7 linked regions of the Homo sapiens genome follow. The protein of the gene in region 3 purifies or fractionates together with the protein of the main gene of each other region. This does not show direct contact. Each region holds a gene or a part of one and is shown on either strand. Other genes may lie near its edges.

Region 1 (3,500 bases), on a different chromosome or scaffold from region 3:
AGACGGGGTTTTACCACGTTGGCCAGGCTGGTCTCGAACTCCTGACCTCAGGTGATCTGCCCGCCTCGGCCTCCCAAAGTGCTGGGATTACAGGCGTGAGCCGCCGCGCCTGGCCTGGATTTTGATTTTTTTATTGTTTCATGCTTACGCTCCAATGAGCATTTCCTTTAAGTGTCAGGTTGGTGCTCAAGAAGGTTCAGGTTCTGGGGCATTTCAGATTTCAGGATTAGGATGTTCAGCCTGTACCTGAGCACTTGAACAAAACAACCTGCTGTCACCAACAGGACCTGGCACCAGAGAGCACTCGGAACACTCTGGCCCAGATCTTCAGTGCGCAGGTCCTGCGATGCCCGCAGCGGGGCCCTCCCCTCCCTGAACGCTGGGGACTCCGAGGGCAGCAGCAGGTTTCTAAGCGGTTTTACCTTTTTCTTCAGGTGGTCTGAAGAAGTCGGCTGGGAAGGAGACGGAGGACTCCAGCTCCCTGGGGAACTCTTCATGGATGGTGTCGAATCGCGGGACCCTGGCTCCCGTAAAGTTGAACTTGTCAAAGATGTCGACAGCAAGAACTGGGGGGACAGTTCCTTTAATCAGACATAACTCCCAGGGCTTTCTTGAACCCCTGCTGTTTTCAAAATGACCACAACTGTCACACTGACGCTGGCTGGCCATATTTATTTATTTATTTTTGAGGTGGAGTCTCGCAGTGTCTCCCAGGCTGGAGTGCAGTAGCGCAATCTCAGCTCACTGCAACCTCCGCCTCCCAGATTCAAGCAATATCTCCTGCCTCAGCCTCCCAAGTAGCTGGGATTACAGGCAGGCACCACCACGCCTGGCTAATTTTTTGTATTTTTGGTAGAGATGGGATTTCATCATGTCGGCCAGGCTGGTCTCAAACTCCTGACCTCAAGTAATTTGCATGCCCCGGCTTTCCAAAGTGCTGGGATTACAGGCATGAGCCACCACGCCCAGCCTATTTACTTATATTTATTTTTGAGACAGGATCTCACTCTATCACCCAGGCTGGAGTGCAGTAGCACAATCTCAGCTCACTGTAGCCTCGTCCTCCTGCGCTCAAGCGATCCTCCCACCTCAGCCTCAAGTAGCTGGGAATACAGGAGCATGCTACCACACCTGGCTAATTTTTATTTTTTATTTTTAATAGAGACAGGGTCTCACTATGGCGCCTGGCTGGTTTCGAACTCCTGGGCTCAAGCAATCTGCCCATCTCAGCCTCCCAGTGCTGGGATTACAGGTGTGAACTACCACGCCCAGCTGACTGACCATCTTTAGAACAGAACTGACTTCCAACTTCCTGCATCCCGCCTGTACTTACACCTGTCTACAGTGAGCCTGGAGTGAGGCGGGGTCCTCGACACCCACCCTTCTAGAGTCTCACACCTGAGGGTTTGGAAGCCCTGCCGGACCCCCAAGATCATGGCCCAACATCTCCCTAGCCCGGGACCTGTCCCCTGGGAGCCACGGGTACGTCATCACAGACTGTCTTCCCAAAGGCTCCATTTACAGATGAGGAAACAGAGGCCTACCTGCCGAATATTTTTTTTTTTTTTTTTTTTTGAGACGGAGTCTGGCTCTCTCGCCCAGGCTGGAGTGCAGTGGCATGATCTCGGCTCACTGCAAGCTCCGCTTCCCGGGTTCACGCCATTCTCCTGCCTCAGCCTCCCGAGTAGCTGGGACTACAAACGCCCACCACCACGACCGGCTACTTTTTTGTATTTTTAGTAGAGACGGGGTTTCACCATGTTAGCCAGGATGGTCTTGATCTCCTGACCCTGTGATCCGCCCACCTTGGCCTCCCAAATTGCTGGGATTACAGGCGTGAGCCACCGCGCCCGGCTTTTTTTTTTTTGAGATGGAGTCTCGCTCTGTCACCCATGCTGGAGTGCAATGGCGCAATCTCAGCTCACTGCAACCTCTGCCTCCCAGGTTCAAGTGATTCTCCTTCCTCAGCCTCCTGAGTAGCTGGGATTACAGGCATGCACCACCACACCTGGCTACTTTTTGTATTTTTAGTAGAGATGGGGTTTCACCATTTTGCCCAGGCTGGTCTCCAACTCCTGACCTCATGTGGTCTGCCTGTCCCGATCTCCCAAAGTGCTGGGATTACAGGTATGAGCCACTGTGCCCGGCCTCACAATCATTTTTCTAAGAGCATGGCCAAGGGGGGGCCGGGAGCCCACCTGCTTCACCCCATGGGGGCCTAGCTCTGGGGCACACCCCTGATGGTAGCAGGGTTCCACCCCCAACGCAGCCAGCGCCTTACTCATGTTGGCGGTGACGATGACGAAGGGCCGCAGGTACGTCCGCCGCACGTTGCGTGCCACGTTGCTGAAGTAGCCCTCGAGGCGCCGGAGCAGCTGTGCCGTGCCGCCCTCGCTCCGCTGGATCTGCTCCCACGCCGCCCTGGTGGCTGGGGCCAGGAGGGCGCTGCCCGAGTGGATGACGTCCTGGTCAGACAGACAGCACTCAGTACTCAGCCTGCGGAGGCCTGGCTCGTGGGACGGAGGGACACCTGCCCTGAAAGCCTTTGCTTGCCTAGTGGGCTCATTCATTCATTCCAGCCCTACACTTTAGACTGTGCTCTTTAATATTAGTTGTTTTTTGTTTTTTGTTGTTTTTTGTGTTTTTTTTTGAGACACACTTCCGCTCTTGTCGCCCAGGCTGGAATGCAGTGGTGTCATCTCGGCTCACTGCAACCTCCGCCTCCTGGGTTCAAGGAATTCTCTTGCTTCAACCTCCCGAGTAGCTGGGATTACAGGCACACATGTGCCACCACACCCGGCTAATTTTTGTATTTTTAGTAGAGACGGGGCTTCACCATGTTGGCCAGGCTGGTTTTGAACTCCTGACCTCAGGTGATTCACCTGCCTCGGCCTCCCAAAGTGCTGGGATTACAGGCGTGAGCCACCACGCCTGGCCTAGTTCCCAAATATTTTTTCAAAAAGTTTATCTTAAGAGGAATAAAAAAATGTTACTAAGCTCACAAAGTATATTAAAATCTAGAGAATTAAAGATGCTTCATATTCTTAGCTTAATTTACTAGATGTACAAGCACTGCTTAAATGCTTGGAAGGTCTGTTTGCTAGCCGAACAATTGAAATACAAAACAAAAAATCAACTACATGACATATATTAATTCCATTTAAAATACTTAGGGGAATTTCATGGTCTAAGTTTATAAATAGGATCAAACATTAATCAAAGTTGAATTCAAATAGATAAGGAAGTCTTTTTGTTTGTTTGTTTTGTTTTTGTTTTTTGAGACAGAGTTTCACTTTGTTGTCCAGCCTGGAGTGCAGTGGCACAGTCTTGGCTCACTGCAGCCTCTGCCTCCCGGGTTCAAGCAATTCTCGTGCCTCAGCCTCCCACCACCCCGCCCAGCTGATTTTTTTCATATTTTAGAAGAGACAGGGTTTCACCATGTTGCCCAGGCTGGTCTCGAACTCCTGGGCTCAGGCAATCTGCCCATCTCGGCCTCCCAA
Region 2 (3,500 bases), on a different chromosome or scaffold from region 3:
ACCTCAGCCTCTACGCAGCTGGCACTACAGGTGAACACCAACACACCCTGCTAATTTTTTTTTTTAGTAGACACGAGGTCTTGTTATGTTGCCCAGGCTAGTCTCCAACTTCTGAGTTCAAGTGATACTCCTGCTTCAGCCTCCCAAAGTGCTGGGCTTACAGGCATGAGCCACCGCATCCCACCCAAAGTATCTTAATTCTGTGTTTTCATCTTCCCTAGAACCTAGGCTCTTTGAGGACCAGAAATGAATCTTTTATTTCTATATCCCCACTGCCTAGCATGGTGCATGGTCCACAGCAGACACAAAAATCTTTACCAATTGAATGAGGTCATGACTGTAATGAGGAATTTATCATTTGAATTATGCATAATTATAAAAATGCTATTTAATTTATAACAGTTCTAGACATGCATAACATGTCAACATCACAGTGAAACCTGTCTAACAGATGTAGGTCAAGGACCGAACTAGGTTGTCCATTATTCTCACTATACTCTAAGTGCTGGGACACAAGATAACCCAGTCCTAAAAGGAGAAATCAACATTTTAAGCAGCTCTACAAAGAAGTAGAAAAATTGAAGACATCAGACAAAAGTTTCAAGAGCAGTCTTAAAATGATTAAGAGGCTCTAATAAGAGATTTCATAAAAGACTTAAAGAAAAAGCTTTCCTGTGGCAAATACTTCCTGTTAGGAGAACAGTTGCTCATCCCTCAGCTCAAAGGACCACAGGAAGCTGTGCCCATTGTACCTAATGAACTTTTACAATTATCTAACTTTTCTCATCTTCTTCTCCCTCAAGGTGAGTACCAACAATGCTAATGCAATCATGACTTCCATGTGAACTTCCGGCCGAGTTTTTTTTTTTTCCTTCTTTCATTAACCATCAGAGATAGCCAGTGCTGAATAAGCCAAGTTTCCATTCTGGAGACTATAGATAAAAATAGCCTGGATCACTCTGAGTGGATCATAATTTCTCATTTATACTAATGAAATAAAGTTTTCTGTCCTACAAATGTCAAATGTCATTCAAGTGAAAACCAGAGAACCAAGTGTCTCACTCTGTAGGATCCAAAGCCACATAAAAAGGACCATTTTAGTCAACTCTTCACTGAAGGTTCAAATTCAAACAATCCATATCTCCTCCAATCTGAAGGTGAGATAACCCCTTCCCTGCCACACCACAGCTTCTGCCACTGCCACTCAAGCCAGAAGCATAAGTGAAGTAAAGAATGACTCTATTATTCATTGGAATAACAGAACCATATGTGGGCTACACACTTAGGCCATGTGCAGTGGGCACTGCTATTTTGGTCCATCCGGCACCCAATCCCTCTACTTCTTGTAAAATACTGAAGTTCCTTTCCAAAACCATTTCTTAAGCTTTCTAAGTGGCCCAGGGGTACTGGATGACTCTATCCTACTTCCCAACCCCCACCAAGCCTGGCCAACCATAGCATTCTTTTGACCACGGAGATGTAATTAGGGATAGGCCCAAGACCCAATCAAAGTTCATCTTTGAACTTTTGCTGGAGCTACCAGGAAAGAACTTTTTCTCTTCTAGTTATCTTATCAGTAGGAGAAGGGACATTACCTGACAATGGAGCCGACTATGCAGAAGAGCCAAGAGATAGCCAAAGAGAAAGGCCTTGGAGATGCTGCCTGAGGCCCTGTATCCAGGTGTGTCTGGGGCCATATTTACTCTTGAACTTCCCAACTAGGGGAGCTATAAATGTCCCTTCCAGTTTTTTCCTGCTTAAGCCAGTCTTGTCTTTTTTTCACTTGCTACCGTAAGATTTTTGTCTTGTACACAAAAATAGAATCAGCTCATACGTAACTTTTTTGTGTAACTTCTCCTTTTCCTTCTTTCCTCTCCTCAACCTTAACATTAAAAGCTAAAGGCTCTTGTTCTGAGTCCCCTCTAATAAAAAATAAAATAAAATAAGCTAAAGGTTCATGAGAAAGCTGGGTGAATAAGAGAAGCATGCTCTCTGGATCTGTCCACAAACTCCTGCCTTATCTATCTATACAGGGCTTATTTATCTATACCATTCTGTCACCCTCCTGCCTCTACAGACAGACACTAATCATAGATGAAATGACATTCAAAGTTTCTTGCAGTTCTGAGCTATATGATTCCTTTAAGCCTCAGTTGCCTCATCTGTAAAGTGGGAGATGATCTCTCTCACAGGATTCTTAGGAGGATGAATACAGCAAAAGAATACTTTACAAATGTTTCTTGAAAAAGTATGTGACCTTCTCTATTCCCAAGGCAGTTTCTCAATACTGTATCCACCAAAAAAGGAAACACAGGTCATTCAAGAAATTATTACAGAATGCCTAAAATGTATAAGGCACGTGGGGGATATAGAGATTAAAACATCTAAAAATGCTTCCAATGTAGAATATCAGACAACTACAAAACTAGCACTACATTAGGGCTGGGCGCGGTGGCTCACGCCTGTAATCCCAGCACTTTGGGAGGCAGAGGCAGGTGGATCACGAAGTCAAAAGATCGAGACAATCCTGGCCAACGTGGTAAAACCCCGTCTCTACTAAAAATACAAAAATTGGCCAGGCGTGGTGGCAGGTGCCTGTAGTCCCAGCTACTTGGGAGGCTGAGGCAGGAGAATCATTTGAACCCAGTAGGCAGAGGTTGCAATGAGCCGAGATTGCACCACTGCACTCCAGCCTGGGTGACAGAGCGAGACTCCGTCTCAAAAACAAAACAAAACAAAACAAAAAAACACTAGCACCATATTGAAGAAAATATACAAGTTGTCATCAAACAACAACAAAATAAGCTATGGGAACTGAGAGGATAGAAAAACTACTTCTTTGTAGGAGGTGGAAAGGTTTCATGGAAGAGACGGCATTCGATTGTGCCTCATTGCCCAGGGAAGCATTACCAGTCAGAAACCTCCTCAGACAGGAAATCAAGACTGACTTTATCCATATGTACAGACATGCCACCTACAATCTTAGCATCCCATGATCCTAAATGCCTTTCAAATAACTCTTCTAAAAGATAAAAGCAGACTAAAACATTTTGCTTCCTTGTTACAAAATCATAACCCACGCAGAAAACTATTAGGATAATTTTCTCAATGAGAATCATATTTTTATAACCAGAGGGAATACACATTAAATTTTTAAACATCTATATTGTTTCCCAGACAATTCTAATCGCCATAACTTTCTAGTGAAACTGAAAATTTCTTGAGGGCAAAGCCCAGTGTTATTTCTCTGTGCCCCTCACCTTGCCACACACACTCATTGTATGAATACACAAAAACAAAAAAAGACTCATCTAAAAAGTGTTACATTAAAAAGTGTGAACATGTCACTCCCAGATCTTAAATCACTTATGTTTCCCAGCACACACCACGCATTTCCACAATGTGCCATGTGTTGATACTATTCTCCTTCTTGGAATGTCCTTGAATCTGGAATTCCATTCCCAGCTCCGAAAAATATTTCCTCCAAGGCCTAGCTCAAA
Region 3 (3,500 bases):
TTCTGAGAGTTTTAATTGCAAAATTATTTTATGAATAAGCCTAACTTAGGAGCTAAGGCTAACTTAGGAGTACACTTTTGTAATAAATAGCTGAGTAGCAGCTGCTGCACTTCTGTTAGTTGCAGGCAGCCAACTGTTGAAACCCTGTTCAAATCGGCAAACGCCAGGCTGCAACCAATAGAGCTGTCTCTGTACCTCACTTCTGTTTTCTGTACCTCATTTCCATTTTCTGTCCATAAATGCTGTCTGACCAAATTGCTGCTTTGAATTCTCTGAAACCGTTCTGATTCTGAGGGATGGCTTGTTTATGAGTCATCCTTTTCTCAGTTAGACTCTGCTAAATTTAGTCTGTCTAAAGTTTTTCTTCTAACACTTCAATTCTGTATGATTTTAAACTACTTCTTAATCTGTCTTAAACTACTTCTTAATGCCTCAGTTTCTTAAACTGTAAATTTGCTATACAACTACCAAAATCATAATGTTTCAGAGTTGAACAAAATAGTTTGCATTAAGTGCCTGGAAGACCCTGCAGCGTGAGCAGAGGTGCACAGACCTGTGAGACTTGAAGGCGTTGGAGCCATCCCCACCCTCTGACGTGGTAATAGGGAGGGGTTTAAAAACATGTCTCATGTGGACTTTTGGTAATGATATTTGAAGAAGCTTTCCTCTAGGTGGACTTTATAGTACCTTGTAAGTCTGGTCCAGCCGCTATATTTTATTTCCCCAATGCTCCACATAGGTGGAGTTATAGACACACACCAGTTGAATGTCCTCAAATAATTTTGAAAATTAAAATTAACATTTTAAGATCAATAATTGGGGAAGTCGGCAAAGTACAAATTGTGAAACAATGATGAATGTAAAAAAGGGGTCTAATTCTCTCACTGTGCAAAGTGGGGAAAGATGTTCTCTGAGGGCTTTCCTGGGCCCAAGCTATATTACATTTTCCATTCTCATCAGGCCCTGCCCGTGCCATTTTTTCTCTATTCTAAATTAAGTGTCGTCCTTTTCTGTTAAATGATAAGAATGGTTTTGCATAAGGTGTGATCATTTATAATAGAAACACAAGCATAAAATTGTTGGTTCTCTGCATAGAGTCACTGGCCAAAGGCGTTAACATCCCATTATGTCATTGGCCGAAAACTGCCAGCTACCTTTGTAGAGAGGAAAGTCCCTGTCAACACAATTTGAATTTTCAGATTATTACCTTCCATTCCAGGTAACAGTTGACTCCCAGTTATTTCCAGCATTTTGTTTGCTTTGTCCTGTAATTTTACCTAAAACAATATTATTTTCCTCTCCTATGTATCTATTAAAGTCTGAAGACAAGAATCAGAAAAAATGGACTAGGGATTAGTTTGGGGCTGTTTCTGCATCCACATGGCTTACGGTAAATTACTTAATAAAACAGACTGTTTCCTCATCTCCTTTATCCATATGAGGATTTTATTCCCTGTCCGTGTGTGACCTGTGCACATATTAGATCTTAAACTGGCTTGCCCTGCCTGACATAGGTAATTAAGAGCTAAAATTGACTTCAATGGAGACTGAAGGAAGCAAAATGTAAGTATGGAGATTCAATTAATTTGATGCATTACAGATACAGACAAAACTCCTTTTGTCCAGAATCCAAGTAAAACTAAAGTTTAAAGTGCTAAAAAAATCATGCAGCCCTGTTTGTTAATAATTGATGTTCTACTAGAATACAAGCTCCTTGGGAGCCACTATGCCTAACCCACTTTTTTTTTCTTTCAATTTTAAGTTCCGGGGTACATGTGCAGGATGTGCAGGTTTGTTACATAGGTAAACATGTGCCATGGTGGCTTACTGCACAGGTCATCCCATCACCCAGGTGTTAAGCCCAGCATCCATTAGCTGTTCTTCCTGATGCTCTCCCTCCCCCATCCCCCAACAGGTGTCCAGTGTGTGTTGTTCCCTGCCATGCATCCATGTGTTCTCACCAATCAGCTCCCCCTTATAAGTGTGAACATGCAGTAGTTAACCTCCTTTTTCTATACGGTTTTGTACACAGCCTTCCAGACAATTTTGTGCTGAAATGTATTGCTTTGTTTTGTTTTGGTTATTGTTTGTATGTTCTGAATGCCTTCTGAATATCCACTGAAAAATTAATTCCCTTCTGGAGCGTGAAGTACACTGAATTATACACTGATTCCTTGAAACCTGATAATCTCATCATCATACCACATAATCCTCTTTCAATCAGCATATTCAATTAATGCACTATCTCATTTCTCAAATATGCTAAGTTATATCTAATCTCTTAGAACTGGACACTACATTAGAGATTAAATTCAACCTGTTCACTTTAAAGATGAGAAAAATAGAGATGAATGAGCTGACAAAGTCACACATAAGTAATTAAGGACTTGCACTGTTAAGTTAGATAGATGTAGATTAGAAGGTAAACATCACCATTTCTTCCTGATTTTTGGCAAACCATGTATGTCTCTAAGATTGTTTCTTAGCTGTAATATGAGGATAAAGCAATTAAACTTTATAATTATTGTAAGAAAAAATGAAATAATTCCCATAACATATTCAGCATCGTGCCTGGCATACAATTAATATTTTTAAAAACTATTATTTTTATAAATGAAAAACATTATTTGTAAGACTACAAGCAGTGATTTCAGTCTTAGGACTTCCATAGAGAGCTGGGTGTCCCATCATTAGAGCTCACCTGCAAAGCTTCCGTGCCCAGAGCCCTCCTCTCCCACCTGACAGGAAGCAAAGGGAAGCTCCATCTTTCCGTGTTGGTTAATTGTGGCCCCGGAGGTTACCATGACTTAGGAACAACAGGACATGGGGTCGTATTGTGTGTGCTGGGTCTCCAGTGGGTCTCAGAGAACTCAGAGGAGTGACTCTTCTCCTAAAACCTTCTTGAGAGACAGACTTGTGTCAACCTGCCCCAAACACTGGCTTTACTTCCTGATCTCAGAAGGGTAAGATACACAGGTGTGTGTCTCTCCTCAGATTGTGGAGTTACTTTGCGCCTTCCAGGGACCCTTCCCTTTATGTTTATGGCCTAATGGGGTTGAAGGTGCCATAGTAGACTCTGGTAGAGATTGGGTTGTGTTTGTTACCCTGATTTTCCTCAAAAACTCTTTTGTGGGCTGAAAGGTGTGCTTAAGCTCACCTAAAGCACACACATGGATACACATTCCTGGAGCAGGTGACTTGATGGAGAGCAAGGAATTGATGGAAAGAGCACATAAGGGATCCACGTTCTATGCACCTAGGCAGGGAGGCAGGCTGGTTGCCTTGGGCTGGGAGAAGAGGCCATAAAAAGGAGGGAGCTAGTAAGGAGGTAAAGGGGAAACTCAAAGGGGCTCAGCCATCGGCTGGTTATGTTTTAAACCACTTATCTCAGGTGCAGCAAAATAATACCCTCAGTCCAACTCCGAGATTTAAAAAACAAAAATTAGGCTGGGTGCAGTGGCTCATGCCTGTAATCCCAGCACCTTTGGGAGGCCAAGGCC
Region 4 (3,500 bases), on a different chromosome or scaffold from region 3:
TCAGCCTCAGTGTCTTCACACACCAAGCCTGTGCACCACACTTGCACTGTGGGGACCCGTTCGGGCTGTGGGCACAGGCCGGAGACAAAGTGCATCACCAGGACATGTCCAGCCCTGCTTCAGCCGCACCAACATGCGTGACCACCTGGAAACACCTGGCCCCACTCTGGCCACCCAGGGTTGGTGGGGGTTCTGCCAGAAGCAGACCTGGTCACCTCTGAGGTGCTCCCCAGTGCTGAAAGTCTGGGGGCTGAGGAGTAACACAAGCAGACAGGCCCAAGGCAGGGCAGCAGGCCCATCCAGTATCAGTCCTGCCTGGTCCACAGCCGCTGCTCAGCGTACTTGGGTACCTCGCGCCTGAGAGGGTCTGCTCAGGGCCATTTCAGTGGTGGCTTTTCCTCCCCTCAACCTTCCTTGATGATCTCATGCCCCTTTAAAATTTCAATGTCATAGGTAATTTATTAAATAACTAATCACCTTAAAAATTTTTCTTAAAATGGCTGGACACAGTGGCTCATGCCTGTAATCCTAGCACTTTGGGAGGCTGAGGTGGGTGGATCACCTCAGGTCAGGAGTTCGAGACCAGCCTGGTCAAGGTGGTGAAACCCGGTCTCTACTAAAAATACAAAAATTAGCCGGGCGTGATGGCACGTGCCTGTAATCCCAGCTACTCGGGAGGCTAAGACAGGAGAATCACTTAACCTGGAAGGCAGAGGTTTCAGTAAGCTGAGATTATGCCACTGCACTCCAGCCTGGGTGACAAGCGTGAGACTCCGTCTCTAAATAAATAAATAAATAAATAAATAAATAAATAAATAAGGAGTCGAGCCTTCCCATTTTATTGCTGTATCTAAACTCAGAGCTGGTTTCCTCATTTATAAAAGGGAATAATACAACTTTGGAATTTCCAAGGGCCAGTGCCTTCTGGCCCTGAAAAGCAGTCACTTTGTGAGAACAAGCAGCCTGGCCTCAGAGCCGGTTGACTTCCTAGGGCCTTGAGTCACATACCACCACTCCAGCGCTGGGTGACTGCGGGTGGGTCATCATGCAGCCTCATTCATTCCCCTCACTGGCCTCCAAGGGCTGCTTTGAGAAACCCCTCACGCAGCACAGTAGTGCTGGAAAGGCAGGGGTCATGTCAGGCTTGCACTCCCCAGTGTCCCAGTCAGGGCAGGTCTGCAACTTACTGCTGAAGCGAACGGGCTGCGCCACGTTCACCGCGTGGAAGTGCGAAGGGTCGCCTCCTCTGGCCCGCCCCTGCCGCGGATCCACAGCCTCCTTCCCATGATGAGGACGCACCTCCCCGGTCACTTCTGAAAGCAAAAGGAGATGTGTGCTGTGAGTCCTGCCTGTGCAGTCGCAGTCTCCCTGGCCAGCATGGTTCAGACCACTCAGGGCTGCAAGGCCGGAGGGGGGGCCTGTAGCACAGAGTCCGGCAATGCAGGCTTTCTTTAGAGCCCTATGAAACACTGCCGCTCGCATCAAATGGGTCCCGTGTGCTTCTTATTAAAATTATGCCGTGGCAGTTTTTGTTTTTTAAGTTACTATTGTGAAATGGAGGCCCTCTTCATTGCATTTTCTAACAGGTCATTGCTAGCACAGCAAAGGGTCCTGCATAAATTAAAATCCCTCAGCAGTTCCAGCCCCATGGGGATGGCCCATGAAAGAGTTCTCTCCAGAGCCCAGGCTGCCCCTACCCCTTCCTTGAGGGCCTTCTCTCCCAGTATGAAGGAGACCCACGTGTGCAACCTTCCTCTGCAGCCCTTGTCCTGGGGCCTGAGCTGCCTATCTGTCCCCCTGCCTGCTGGTCCCCCATGGCTGTGAAGGCCTCCAGGCCAGGACCTCAGTATGTTCCTGTCTGGCTCTTTGGTGCTTGGCACAGGCCCTGGTGTGCAGCAGGTCTCAGTGCATGGCTAGAAGGTGTCAACAGGCAGCTGAAGATGAGGAAATAACTATAGTTTTATACAGCATGATCTAATAGTAATTTGCACACCAGTGCTTCCACCCACACACTCTCTTTTGTCCTCCAACCCCCTTGTGAAAAAGGAGAACCACACTCCTCCCATCTCACAAGGTGAAGGGCAGACTCAGAGAAGGGGAGTGACTTACCCAAGGCCATGGTGCAGGGGAGAGGGCCCTCATGGGCCCGCTCACCTCCCACTCTGTACAGGTGTACCCTGATGTGTCATGAAGGGCATCGGGTACAAGGTCAGGTCAGATGGGAAACAAACTTGGTCTGCAAGGCTGCACACAGACAGACGCCTGCCAGCAAGTGCACTCTGGCTGCAGATGGCGAGTGGGGCCTCGGCTCCCCAAGGGAGGTCACAGGGAGGGTTAGGAGGCCTCCTGCAAAGCCTCCTTCCCTGAACCTGAACCGGCAGTCAGCGCCACCTGACGAGCCCCTCTCCAGCAGGTTGGTTCTGCTAGTGTCATAGACTTTGCAATGGTTTTTATTTAATAAAAAATCCACATGCTTTTTTGCTCATGATAAAGTAACAAACATTCAATGTGAAATGCTTGAAAAATACAAAAGTTTGAAAAGACAATAAACAACAAAGGCCATATTTAACTATGCGAGCATCTGCCCCCTCACCAAGTCTCTTTTCTACACAAATCTTTAAGAATACTGGGATCACATCAGACACTCCATTTCACGACTTGCTTTGTAAGCTTAAGACTATAAACAGCTTTCTATATTTTTAAATGGGCTTAGGAACATGACTTTTGATGGCTGCATAGTATTCCACAAATGGATTTCTTTCATCCCCATAATCTCTATGGTTTGAGGTTAGGCTGTTTGCATTTTTTTCATTATTCTAGAAAAGGCTGCCTTAAACACCTTGTACACAAGTGCGTATGTAGTCTCATTTCTGAGACTCTGGATACTCACTCAGTACTCAATAAGCATAGTTCCATAGCTCCTGTCAGGCATGTGATGGGGATGGGTTGCTATTCGACTGGGAATCACTAAAATATAAAATATGCTACCTGTGTCCGAGACACTTTCAACAGAAAGTGAAGACCTCAAAGGGAGAAGCATCTTCAAGGCTTGTGTTTTTTGGTAGAGGTGTCTTTGGGGTACTTTACCACCCCAAAATACAACCTAAGGACCTCAGTGTGGGACAGTAACTGGCACCACGACAGGCCTGATGCTGTAAACACGCAGTACTTGGGGACCATCAGCTCTTTAGGACTGGTCCCATGTCCTAAGCCATGCTACCTGCAGCACCCGACACTCTGGGTAGGAGACTCGACCCACAGACTCGCTGGTAGCTCTGATGCAGGGATGCAGCCACTAGGATGGGGCATCAGCACTTGGTGGAGAAGGGAAGAGCCACCTGAGCTTCTGGGCCTGAGACTGGAAGCTGAGAAAGAACAGAGGGGCTTTCTGGCAGATGGAGCAGCTTTGGCAAAGGGCAAAGGCAGACATATCCGGGATAAACCTGAGGCCAGGCCTGAGTGTGGCTGGAGAATGTCACTGAACTTAAATTCAACATCTC
Region 5 (3,500 bases), on a different chromosome or scaffold from region 3:
TGCTGGGATTACAGGTGTGAGCCACTGCACCCGGCCTCAGCTATCTTTCTTGAAATGAACAAGTGATGTGGCACTGGGGGAGTTTGTCGAGCCTGGTTTGTGTGTTTTATCCAGAAGTGCTGGACAAAATGTGTTCCCACATTACGCAGCAAACAGGAACACCAGAATGACTGCCTCCTCATCAGAGCAGACTATTCCCACCAAACACTCCCCTAATCTTGTATACAGACAGAAAAAAAGGACCTGTCATTAGATACCCTGCTTCCCTTCCTTCAAATGATCCAATTTCACCCTCTCAATTTTTTCATAGCAGTTTTTCACCTGTCCTCTTGTGATTTTCCTAATACTTTTCTTTAAATCAACTAAAAATATATATATATAGAAAAAAATATATATATATAGAGAGAGAGAGATGGTTTCGCTCTTGTTGCCCAGGCTGGAGTGCAATGGTGTGGTCTTGGCTCATTGCAACCTCTGTCTCCCGGGTTCAAGTGATTCTCCTGCCTCAGCCTCCCAAGTAACTGGGATTACAGGCATCCACCACCACGCCCAGCTAATTTTGTATTTTTCATAGAGATGGGGTTTCACCACATTGGCCAGGCTGGTCTCAGACTCCTGACCTCAGGTGATTGGCCTGTCTCAGCCTCCCAAAATGTTGGGATTACAGGTGTGAGCCACCATGCCTGACCTAAATCAACTAAAATATTTTTATTTAATTATATCTTAAAAGGAAATGTTACAGAGGTCCACAATCCCTCATCTGCAATTCCAAAGTCCAAAAATAATCTGAAAACTGCAAGTTTTCCCCCAAAGTTTAAGTCAAACTTATTTATCAGCAAAACTTGACCTGAAGTAATGTGAGGCTATTTATTTATAGTCTCTATTTATTCCAATTAGTGTGGCTTGTCACAGATTTCTTCACAGAAATATTAATGTGTTTGCTTACAAGGTGCTTCCCCAGACACTGCTGGGGGTATGAAGTTACATACAGTAAATGTACAGGGTGATCTTTTCAAAATCTGAGAAATTCTGAATTCTGAACTATATCTGTCCCCAGGGGTTTTCGTAAGGGTTTATGAACCTGTCATACCACCATAAGTAGAAAATCAGTACCACCTGCTAGAAGAAGAGAAGATGACCGTAAAAATAAATATAATTAAACTACATATTGTAATTTTAAGAAAAATGTTTTTTAAAAACACCTAAACTCACACAGATCTCCTCTGACCCCATCAGCAGAGCCTGGTCACAAGCCTCTAAATTCCAAGGCCCATCACCTGTTTCCCTGTGTGATTTGAAATGGGGTCAAGCTCCCATTTCTCCTTGAAGAACTGAGCACCTACTTTGAATATCTCATCAGGAAGGCATTTTATTGCTGATGGCTGGAAATATGGCATCAAATCCTTGTCAAGCATCCGGAGCTCTGCCTTAGTTAATCCAGCTGGGGAGAAAAAGGAATCACGGGGGTTTAGTTCAAGCCATCAGAACTCCGCTTGTTTTATTAATGGTGCTGCATAATGTTCAGATCTGAGTGTTCTAGGCAGGCATCATTCCTTACAAAAGGCCCTGGAAATCACACTGGGGAATCAAGTTCCTTCATCAACTCAGAAAAAAAAAATGTGGGTCACATTAGCCCTGATTGGCCTCCTACAGTGAAACGCATGCCCAGAAGGAACTTCAATTTACACACTTTCAAATTTTGTATAAACCTACTTAGGGGCCAATTAAATCACATTCTAAACTAGCGGTTTTCCAAACTTTAGTGTACACAAGAATCTCCAAAAGAGCTTGTTTTAAAAGCAGATTTGCAGACCCACCCTCTGCAACTTCAAATCATGAAATGTAGGTTCTACTGTAACGCCACTGATGTTTGCTACACATGGCCAAGGATAATGTTTTATTTTGTGTCCCCACATTTAAGTTTGGAAAGAGAGAGAAAGGTATGCTCAGGGTGAGTCTTACCTGCAATGGTCCCAAGCTCCTGCAAGACAGAACTGGTCCACTCAGTGGGATCCCCAAACACAACTTCAGCCTTCCTCTTAAACTCGGCTAAGACATGTGTGCTGCAGAGCAGGGTCCCAATTCTGGCCACTACCACCCTGGTAGTGGTTAAAGAGGGAGGGATATAATATGAGCTTGGACTCTTCAGCCAAAAACAAACAAACACACACACACACACACACACATACACACACACACTGCACAGTAGGCTCAGCAGGGACAGCAGATCCAGCTTATCCCATTAGCCCAGTGGGATTTTAGCCCAGAAAGGTGCCAAGTGTCAGGAGGTGGAATATCTGGATGGATGGATGGATGGATGGATGGATGGATGGATGGATGGATGGATGAATTAACCCATTTGCCATTTTGCACATTCATATTTTAGTTACCTGAATTCTGAGATCTTTATAAGTGGGATTTCAGTGATGTTTATAGCACACAGGGTTGCACCAAGTCCTACCAAATGAAAGCTCTTCAGGTCCTGGATACTGTATCCTGAATCATCCAGGTACCCTTGCAAAATGGATTCAGCCTAAAAAATAGTAAGAATAAAAGATAAACCATCCAGGAATGATCAAGGTCCCCAGGCCTGAGGGGATAAATAAGCTGTTGCTGTAGTCTCCTGACTGATCTCCCATCCTACTCCTCTGGAATCCCCACTCCAAACCATCCTGGCCTCTGCATCCAAGTTCATGTCCTTAAGATACTACTTCAACTGAGTATGTCCCCTAATCTATGAAAGTGTCTTCAGGCAATGAATCTCTTACATCCTTCACCAATATTAAAGGCACTTGTGTCCTGTGTGTCTGCTGCTTATTTCCTTCAGTCACTCTTATGACCCTCAGACAGTTTGGACATACAACTTCTTCTGCATCAGGATCCAAACTTTTCCAGCATCTTTTTCCACAACGTTTCTTCTCCCTTTTTTTTTTTTTTTTCGTTTTTTGGAGACGGAGTCTTGCTCTGTCACCCAGGCTGGAGTGCAGTGGCACAGCTCGCTGCAACCTCCACCTCCCCAGGTTCAAGCAATTCTCGTGCTTTAGCCACCCAAGTAGCTAGAATTACAGGTGCACATCACCACATCTGGCTTTTTGTATTTTTTGTAGAGACGGGGTTTCACCATGTTGCCCAGGCTGGTATCAAACTCCTGACCTCAAGTGATCCACCCACCTCGGCCTCCCAAAGTGCTGGGATTATAGGCATGAGCCACCGCACCCAGCCTTTCCACAACCTCCAACAAAACCTTATAATTTCCTGTCTCTTTGCCTTTGTTCAAACCAGTCCTTTCATCTGAAATGCCCTTCTGCACTTCCAAGTGCAGACATTCTTTTTTTTTTTTCTTTGGTTCAACTCAAATGTCACCTTCTTCATGAGGTTTCAGCCAGAATGATTTTTTCTTCCTCTATGGTCCTACAGAAATATGTTTACCCCTTAATGATTTTTTCTTCCTCTGTGGTCCTACAGAAATATGTTCACCCCTTCAATTCCAATGTTTACTC
Region 6 (3,500 bases), on a different chromosome or scaffold from region 3:
AAGTAACAATTTCAAAGAGGCTCAGCATGTTTTGGATCTGACCAAATATACAGAACTTTTGAGTGAGGAGGAAAGAAAAGGGAAAAGAGGGAGCAAAAGTTTATTCCACATTCACTGTGTGCCAGACACAAGCCTTGGTGCTCCGTCTATGCTCTCGCCTGCCTTTTACAATAAAAAAATTCCAGCTAGAATCAAGTTCCAAACTCCAGCCAGCAGGCTGTTGGGAGTCAGGCAGAGCTGCTGGACTCCAGGAGAGTACACAATAATAAACCAGTGTAGGGTATAAAATTTTTTCTTTTCTTCTCTTTTCTCTTTTCTTTTCCTTTCCCTTTCCTTGCCTTCCTTTCTCCTTCCCTTTCCCCTTCCTCTTCACCTTCTCTCCTCTTCTCTTCTCTTTCTGGCTGGGTCTCACTCTGTCACCCAGGTTGGATTGCAGTTGCATGAACATGGCTCACTGCAGCCTCAAAACTCCTGGGCTCAAGCAATTCTCCTACTTTAGCCTCCCATATATGTAGCTGGGACCACAGGTGCACACCACCAGCTGGGACCACAGGTGCACACCACCATGCCTGGCTAATAGTTTGATGTTTTGTAGAGATGGAGTCTCACTTTGTTGCCCAGGCTGGTCTCGAACTCCTGGGCTCAAGCGATCTTCTCATCCCGGCCTCCCAAAGTGCCGGGATTACAGGCATGAGCCACCGTGCCTAGCCAGGGTACACAATTTAAGTCACGAAATAGAATGACAATAACAATATTAATAAGGTTATTGGGTACCAAAATTTTGAAATAATATGATTTAAAATTTTTAATTCACTAGAATAACTACCTAAATAATTTAAAATTGTATTAAAGGAACCGCCTATGTTGGTACCATTCAAGCTGATAAATACCCCAATCTTTTGACAGAACTTGTGAATTAAGCATTTTTCTTATGAGCACTGGAATGTCCGTGAATGATTTTGTTGACTATCAGGATATTTTAACATTCACTCTTCCTACAATTTAAAACAATTTTCAAATATTGTAAGCGTCTAGACCAGGGGTCCACAAACTCTGGCCCACAGGTTAAACCTGACCCTCTGCCTGTTTTTGCCACATTTTCAAATGATTGAATAAAAATCAAGAAAAGAACATTTTATGGCATATAAAAATTATATGAAATTAAAATTGCAGTGCCCATAAGTCAGTTTCACTGGAACACAGTCCTGCCTGTTCATTTATCTATTGTCTATGGCTTCTTTTGCACTCAAAAGGCAAAGCTGATTAGTTGCAACAAAGACCACATAGCCTGCAAAGTCAAAATATTAATGTTTGGCCCTTTCCAAGAAAATATGCGGACCCCCAATCTTGACAGTCTGTCAAATGGTGGTGCTGGTGTCAGACTGAAAACACACAGAGATGATGATGATGGTGATGATAACAGCAACAACCACGACCACCAGCTTGGCAACTGAGAAAGCCAAAAAAGCATCACGAGATACCAAGTGGGTAATTTATGAGTGAGCCCACTGTGCAATGTGAGAGAGAGTGCGACCATATGAGAAGCAACAGCAAAGCAAAGCTATGTGTTTTGAGACCATATCAAGTAAATGCACGCTCCACATTTATTCTGTAGGGGGAAAAGTCTGAATTATGAGAGATCTGAATACCGCGAGGTCTTCAAGAATGTAGCCCTCCCATAAAACACAACAGGCTTCTACTTCCTTTCTCCCTCTTCCCTCTCCCCCAACCTTGTTTCCTCCTGTTGGGAGGCAGATCCCACCCCAGGTCTTTCTGAATTCCCACCAATCTGAATCTGATGCCTGTCTGGGTCCCCCAGCCTCTCTACGGCATGTTTATCACAGTGATTTTCCTCTCACCTGCCCGCTGCTAAGGCTGTAAGTATACTATTACTCCCCGCCTCTCACACTCCCAGGCAAGAATACACCTTCTTCATCTGTAAGAAGAAAGAAGTTCTAGTGTTCACCTGCACAACAGTTGGCCCTTCATGCATTGTAGGCTTGAGCAGACACCTTACCTATGCTCTCTCCTCTAATTCCTACGGCATGTACAGAGATTGTTAGCCCATTTCATACATGAGGAAACTGAAGCTTAAAGAGATTAATCTACCCAAAGCCACACATGCAGAGTCAGGTCTGGAATTCACACACTTTACAGTGCATGGCACTGCCACCTGATGCACAGTAGGGGCTCAGAAAGCACTGGATGCCTGAGTGAATGACTGCATAGCAATGCCCACACAGGACCACTAACGCACAGCAGCGCAATCTCAGAAGCAGCCAAGACCTTCCACTCCAAGAGACCTCTGTGGACACTGAAATAACTTCCCTCTCTGGAACTCAGAAAGTCACCACTCGAACAGTACCTCTCACACCCCTTGCTAAGAGTGAGGTATCAAGTTCCTCCAATCTGAGCCTCAGGAAAGAACAGTAACTAGTGAGGAAAGGAAGGGTAGGCAGAAAACAAGCACCTGTTCTGTTTCTGGGTCCCCCTTGTCTGGGCCTCCCAAGTGCAATTTCTCTGAAGACCCCATGAGCAGCACGGACCACTCTTATTACAGCTCTTGCTTTTGACCTGGTAATCACATGGCTGGGAAGTGTATTTCCAAAGCAGAACATGAGATCAGAAATAAATAAACATCAGCAAATTGAACATTCACGTTGGTAGTGCCAATTTTTAGAGTGGGAGAAACTAGAAACAACCTAGATCCCTGATAGAGGGTGGGGAATGGCTAAGGAAACCGTGATGGAGCAAAATGATGAAAAGCATCATTGTGCTTTAAAAAATGGGAACCCTGCTTAGGTGGCAAGTGGGAAATGTTGACACAAAATCCTGTTAGTTGAAAAGACAAATCTGCATGTGCTAAATTAAAACATAAGCCGATATCAAGGAGAAAACAGAGCAATATTAGCAGTGGCATTATGCGTATATGCGCTCATGTGAAAGAGGCCAAGAAGACAGAGCATCCTGTAAGAGGCTGAGAGCAGGGAGAGACCTTTCCTCACTGAGATACTCACTAACTGGCCTGAGAGTTCCTCCCTCCGGCCCCACCGCCAGTATTTGTTTTGGAGTCAGATGACTTGAAATTGAAACATCATTCTGATGTCTACTTGCTGTGTGAGCCTGTGAACATTCCTTAGCCTCTCTGAGCCTCAGTTTTCTAGCTGTAGAGTAGAAATAATAGTGTCTAGTTCACACAGGTTGTTGAGAGGATTAAATAAAAGAACGCAGGTAAATCCCAGTACCTGACACGGAGCTCTGTAATGGCAGCTCCTCCCCGCTTAGCTGACCAGAAGATCCTCTGAACTTCAAGCAGAATGAAATCCTGGGCCTCAACTAAAATATCGCTAAAGTCAAGCAGGTCCTGGGTACTTGTCTGCTCTGGAAAAGAAACTAAATGGAACTAAAGGCTATACTGTCACTACACGCCCTGTAATGAGACTTCAAAACTTGAAGACACAGCTCTACCCTCAGGGCTCACCTTACAACCAGCAATAAAC
Region 7 (3,500 bases), on a different chromosome or scaffold from region 3:
GACCTCCACCACGAGTCGGTAGAGGTTGTACCCCTCGAGGCCCATCCAGGAAAGGCAGGTGAGCAGGGAGAAGTGCAGGAAGATGGCACTGGCTCGGCAGCCAGCCTCAGAGCCTGTCAGGGCCACCGGCTCGCTGAGCAGGAAGCTCGTGTCCAGCAGGAAGACGGCCAGCAGCAGGTTCATGTGCACCTTGATGGTGTAGTCCCGAGGTTTCCTCCTGCACGGCAGGGGCACCCTGGTGGGCCAGTGTGGGAAGGTAGAGAGGGGAGTGTGCCCACATCTCCTCCAGGAAGCCTTCCCAGACTGCCCCCCACCCCGACACACACATGCAGTCATACATGGCCCCTATCCTATTCCTGTGGCTGCAGCCAAACTGTTCCCCACATCCCCCTGTGCACCTACTGTGTGCCCAGCACCCACAGACTCAGGCACCACGTGCACGTTTAACAGAAGCCTCAGCCAGGCAGAGCGAGGAAGACAACCACAGTAATAAACCAGATACTCTCAAAGTCAGAGCGGAAACACTTTGGCATTTTCACCATGTTGGAGAATCCATGCCATCCACATTCTGTGTCTTCCCGTCTGTCTGCACAACTGTGCACCTGTGAGTCTGAGTGTGGGCTGCCCGCATCGGTCTGTCTGAGGTTTGCAAGTCAATGTGTGCACACCCCACCCCACCCCCACTCCAGGATTCTACATGGCCCTAGAGGGTGCAGCAGAACATGCAGGCCCCAGTGTCACCATCCTGGAGTCCCACCCTGCCCTGCCCCTAACTCATGGCACCATCTTCAGCTGGTCCCCTCCCCTTGAGACTCTCAGTTTGCCTATCTGTGAAGTGGGAGGATGGTACCCTCATAGGGTTGGGGTGAGAGTTACACTGACACAAAGCATCTGACACAGATAAGGTGCTCAGTTCCTAAGGGTTCCTGTGCTGTGTCCTTGGGCATGTTTGTGAGCAACTGGGTGTTGAGGACTTCTGCCTCCACCCCCAGCCTTCCGCCGAGCCCATCTCATCACCCAGCTGTCCTTCCTCATCACCATCACCTACTTAGCTCCCCAGGTACACAGCTGTGCACACACAGGACAGTCATATAGGCACACACGTGCTTGTGCACACGCATAAATACAGCTTCACTTTCCTCTCCTTCCTCGTGGCTGGGGACAGTGAGAACCGAGGGTGCCTCTCCTCTACCCAAATGGGTTCAGCGCTGAGGGCAAGTGGACCCCAATTTAGGCCAAGCCAAGCACTGACAATCTGACCTCTGCCACTTCCTTGCTGTGTGACCTCAAGCAAGTCACTTACCCTCTCTGAGTGTTCCTTCATAGGGCTGTTGTGAGGATGAATTGAGTTCACACATGTAAAACACTTAGAACAGTGCATGGCACACGGGAAGTTTGACACACGTTAAGTATGATCATTACCGCTGTGATATTATTGTGTCCACCCAGTGCTCTCACAAATCTGCTTATTCAAAGGCAGAAATGAAAAATCTTTCCTTTTTTAAGTTTTTTATTTTGCTTTCCTGTCTTACTCTAGGAAAGAAACAGATTCTTAGGTGGACTCTCTCAATTTTAAATGTTGACAATTAGCCTGGCACAGTGACTCATGCCTGTAATCCCAGCGCTTCGGGGGGCTGAGGTGGGTGGATCACTTGAGGTCAGGAGTTCGAGACCAGCCTGAGCAACATGGTGAAACCCCGTCTCTACTAAAAATATACAGATTAGCCAGGTGTGGTGGCAGGCGCCAGTAGTCCCAACTACTCAGGAGGCTGAGGCACAAGAATCACTTGAACCCGGGAGGCAGAGGTTGCAGTGAGCCGAGATCATGCTACTACACTCCAGCCTGGGCGACAGAGGCAAGGCTCTGTCTCAAAAAAATAATAATAATAAAATAAAAATAAAAATAAATAAATACAATGTCGACAGCTAAAATTTGTAAATACTATGTTATCCAAACACCACTGATCTGAGGAGGAGACGTGGCCCCCAAGGGTCAGCTTACCCCAAACAGCTCCCCTAACCACACACACAGTTCCAGGTCATGCGGGCGGGCCATGACCGGAGATGTGTGCGGCGCCCTGGTGGAGGTGTGTGCAATGGAGGGTCCCCTCCCCTGTCCCACCCCTTTCAGGCCTCACCTGGAGCAGAGGTAGGCGGCAATGGTGACAAGGCAGGCCAGGGCAGAGACGACACAGCCCACGTAGGAGAGGAGGCTCAGGTAGTGCTTGTGCACGGCGTCCACCTCCACCGAGGAGACCTGGCCCCAGGAGACAGGAGAGAGCTGGCCTCTGTGTCCCCCACACAACCTGGAGGCTTGCCCTGCGTGAGGGGCTAACCTGGGGTCCCTGGTGGGCCTCGGAAGCCTAAGAACCCCCTCTCCCAACTGAGCAGAATGTGGTCCCATAAGTGCATTTTTCTGGAGTGGGGGCATCTTTAGATTTGACCACATTCTCAAGCGGCTTCCTGACCCACAGAGGCCAAGAACCCTTCATGAGAGAACCCCTATTCTGTCCTGGCATTGATTATTCTTCTATAACATTTAACATGGGAATAGGTTTCCTGTGAGGGAATGAGATTCCCACACCCAGGGGTGTTCAAGCCCCAGGTGGATACCCACAGGCAGAATCCTACAGTCCTGGGAGCATGAATTCTGAGGTCTTGGGGGCACTGGAGGCCACCTCAGGGGCCTCATTAGAAACACTCTTGGCCCCATCACTGCCAAATCAGAACCCTAGGTGAGGGCCAGGAATCTGCATTTTCGTACACACCAAAATTTGGGAATAAAGAGCAGGGGCTCTACAAACCAGCTCTTTCACTGACTAGCTGTGTGGCCACGGGTAAATTGCTTAACCTCTCTGAGCCTCCATTTCCTCATCTATAAAATGGGACAACAATAGAAGCTACCTTGGAGAGCTGTTATGAGGAATAAATGACTGAATATATGAAAAGTGCTTGCACAGAACAAGCACACGGCCTGGGGTGTGGCTGCGAGGTGGGAGCAGGGACCCTCACCATCAGCACTGCAAAGTAGGTCAAGTGGTTGCAGAAGCAGGATGTTTGGGTTTCTCTCCTGACGGTCTCACACCCAGCACTGCTCCAATGCCCCGGGCTGCTCACTGAGGAGGGGACAGCACGGGGCTCCAATCAAGTCCAGTCCTCCAGGACCCCACTGTGTCCACCCCCAAAAGCACGACTGTGTCATTCTTCCACCCGGCCTACTCATAGCCTGCCATCGCTCTCTCTTCAAAGTCCTCCTTTCTCCAGGAAGCCCTCGGTGATTAACCCCACCTCCCCCACCCCCCAGGACTCTATTTCTCTTCCAGATACTTGTCCAGCCCAGAGACCCCTGCATACTCACATGTGGGGTCTTCAACCCAGAACACACATTGCAGAGTCACATTCTTCTGTAGGGACAAGAAAGGAGAGTGGTTTCTGTGACAGCCCCCCACCCCTCCAACTTTACAGGCCAGGCAGAGGAAGTCTAGAACACAGTCAAGCCA

What was found.
Region 1: the proteins of BTNL2 (region 3) and CELSR1 purify together in Homo sapiens (affinity purification with mass spectrometry; one large-scale study listed by BioGRID and IntAct). This does not show direct contact.
Region 2: the proteins of BTNL2 (region 3) and SUMF1 purify together in Homo sapiens (affinity purification with mass spectrometry; one large-scale study listed by BioGRID and IntAct). This does not show direct contact.
Region 4: the proteins of BTNL2 (region 3) and DGCR2 purify together in Homo sapiens (affinity purification with mass spectrometry; one large-scale study listed by BioGRID and IntAct). This does not show direct contact.
Region 5: the proteins of BTNL2 (region 3) and OTOA purify together in Homo sapiens (affinity purification with mass spectrometry; one large-scale study listed by BioGRID and IntAct). This does not show direct contact.
Region 6: the proteins of BTNL2 (region 3) and THSD4 purify together in Homo sapiens (affinity purification with mass spectrometry; one large-scale study listed by BioGRID and IntAct). This does not show direct contact.
Region 7: the proteins of BTNL2 (region 3) and ADGRG1 purify together in Homo sapiens (affinity purification with mass spectrometry; one large-scale study listed by BioGRID and IntAct). This does not show direct contact.

What each region holds. Positions count from the first base shown.
Region 1 is NC_000022.11:46,384,121-46,387,620, forward strand, and holds part of CELSR1 (cadherin EGF LAG seven-pass G-type receptor 1 isoform 1 precursor), read right to left. Parts: intron 2,466-3,500; coding exon 2,282-2,465; intron 567-2,281; coding exon 423-566; intron 1-422. UniProt on the Homo sapiens protein: Receptor that may have an important role in cell/cell signaling during nervous system formation.
Region 2 is NC_000003.12:4,460,770-4,464,269, forward strand, and holds part of SUMF1 (formylglycine-generating enzyme isoform 1 precursor), read right to left. Parts: intron 1-3,500.
Region 3 is NC_000006.12:32,397,182-32,400,681, forward strand, and holds part of BTNL2 (butyrophilin-like protein 2 precursor), read right to left. Parts: intron 1-3,500. UniProt on the Homo sapiens protein: Negative regulator of T-cell proliferation.
Region 4 is NC_000022.11:19,066,913-19,070,412, forward strand, and holds part of DGCR2 (integral membrane protein DGCR2/IDD isoform 1 precursor), read right to left. Parts: intron 1,314-3,500; coding exon 1,188-1,313; intron 1-1,187. UniProt on the Homo sapiens protein: Putative adhesion receptor, that could be involved in cell-cell or cell-matrix interactions required for normal cell differentiation and migration.
Region 5 is NC_000016.10:21,750,968-21,754,467, reverse strand, and holds part of OTOA (otoancorin isoform 1 precursor), read right to left. Parts: intron 2,534-3,500; coding exon 2,391-2,533; intron 2,100-2,390; coding exon 1,963-2,099; intron 1,442-1,962; coding exon 1,344-1,441; intron 1-1,343. UniProt on the Homo sapiens protein: May act as an adhesion molecule.
Region 6 is NC_000015.10:71,121,971-71,125,470, reverse strand, and holds part of THSD4 (thrombospondin type-1 domain-containing protein 4 isoform 1 precursor), read right to left. Parts: intron 1-3,500. UniProt on the Homo sapiens protein: Promotes FBN1 matrix assembly.
Region 7 is NC_000016.10:57,656,130-57,659,629, reverse strand, and holds part of ADGRG1 (adhesion G-protein coupled receptor G1 isoform b precursor), read right to left. Parts: intron 3,405-3,500; coding exon 3,359-3,404; intron 3,117-3,358; coding exon 3,013-3,116; intron 2,258-3,012; coding exon 2,139-2,257; intron 236-2,138; coding exon of another isoform or gene 218-235; coding exon 1-217. UniProt on the Homo sapiens protein: Adhesion G-protein coupled receptor (aGPCR) for steroid hormone 17alpha-hydroxypregnenolone (17-OH), which is involved in cell adhesion and cell-cell interactions.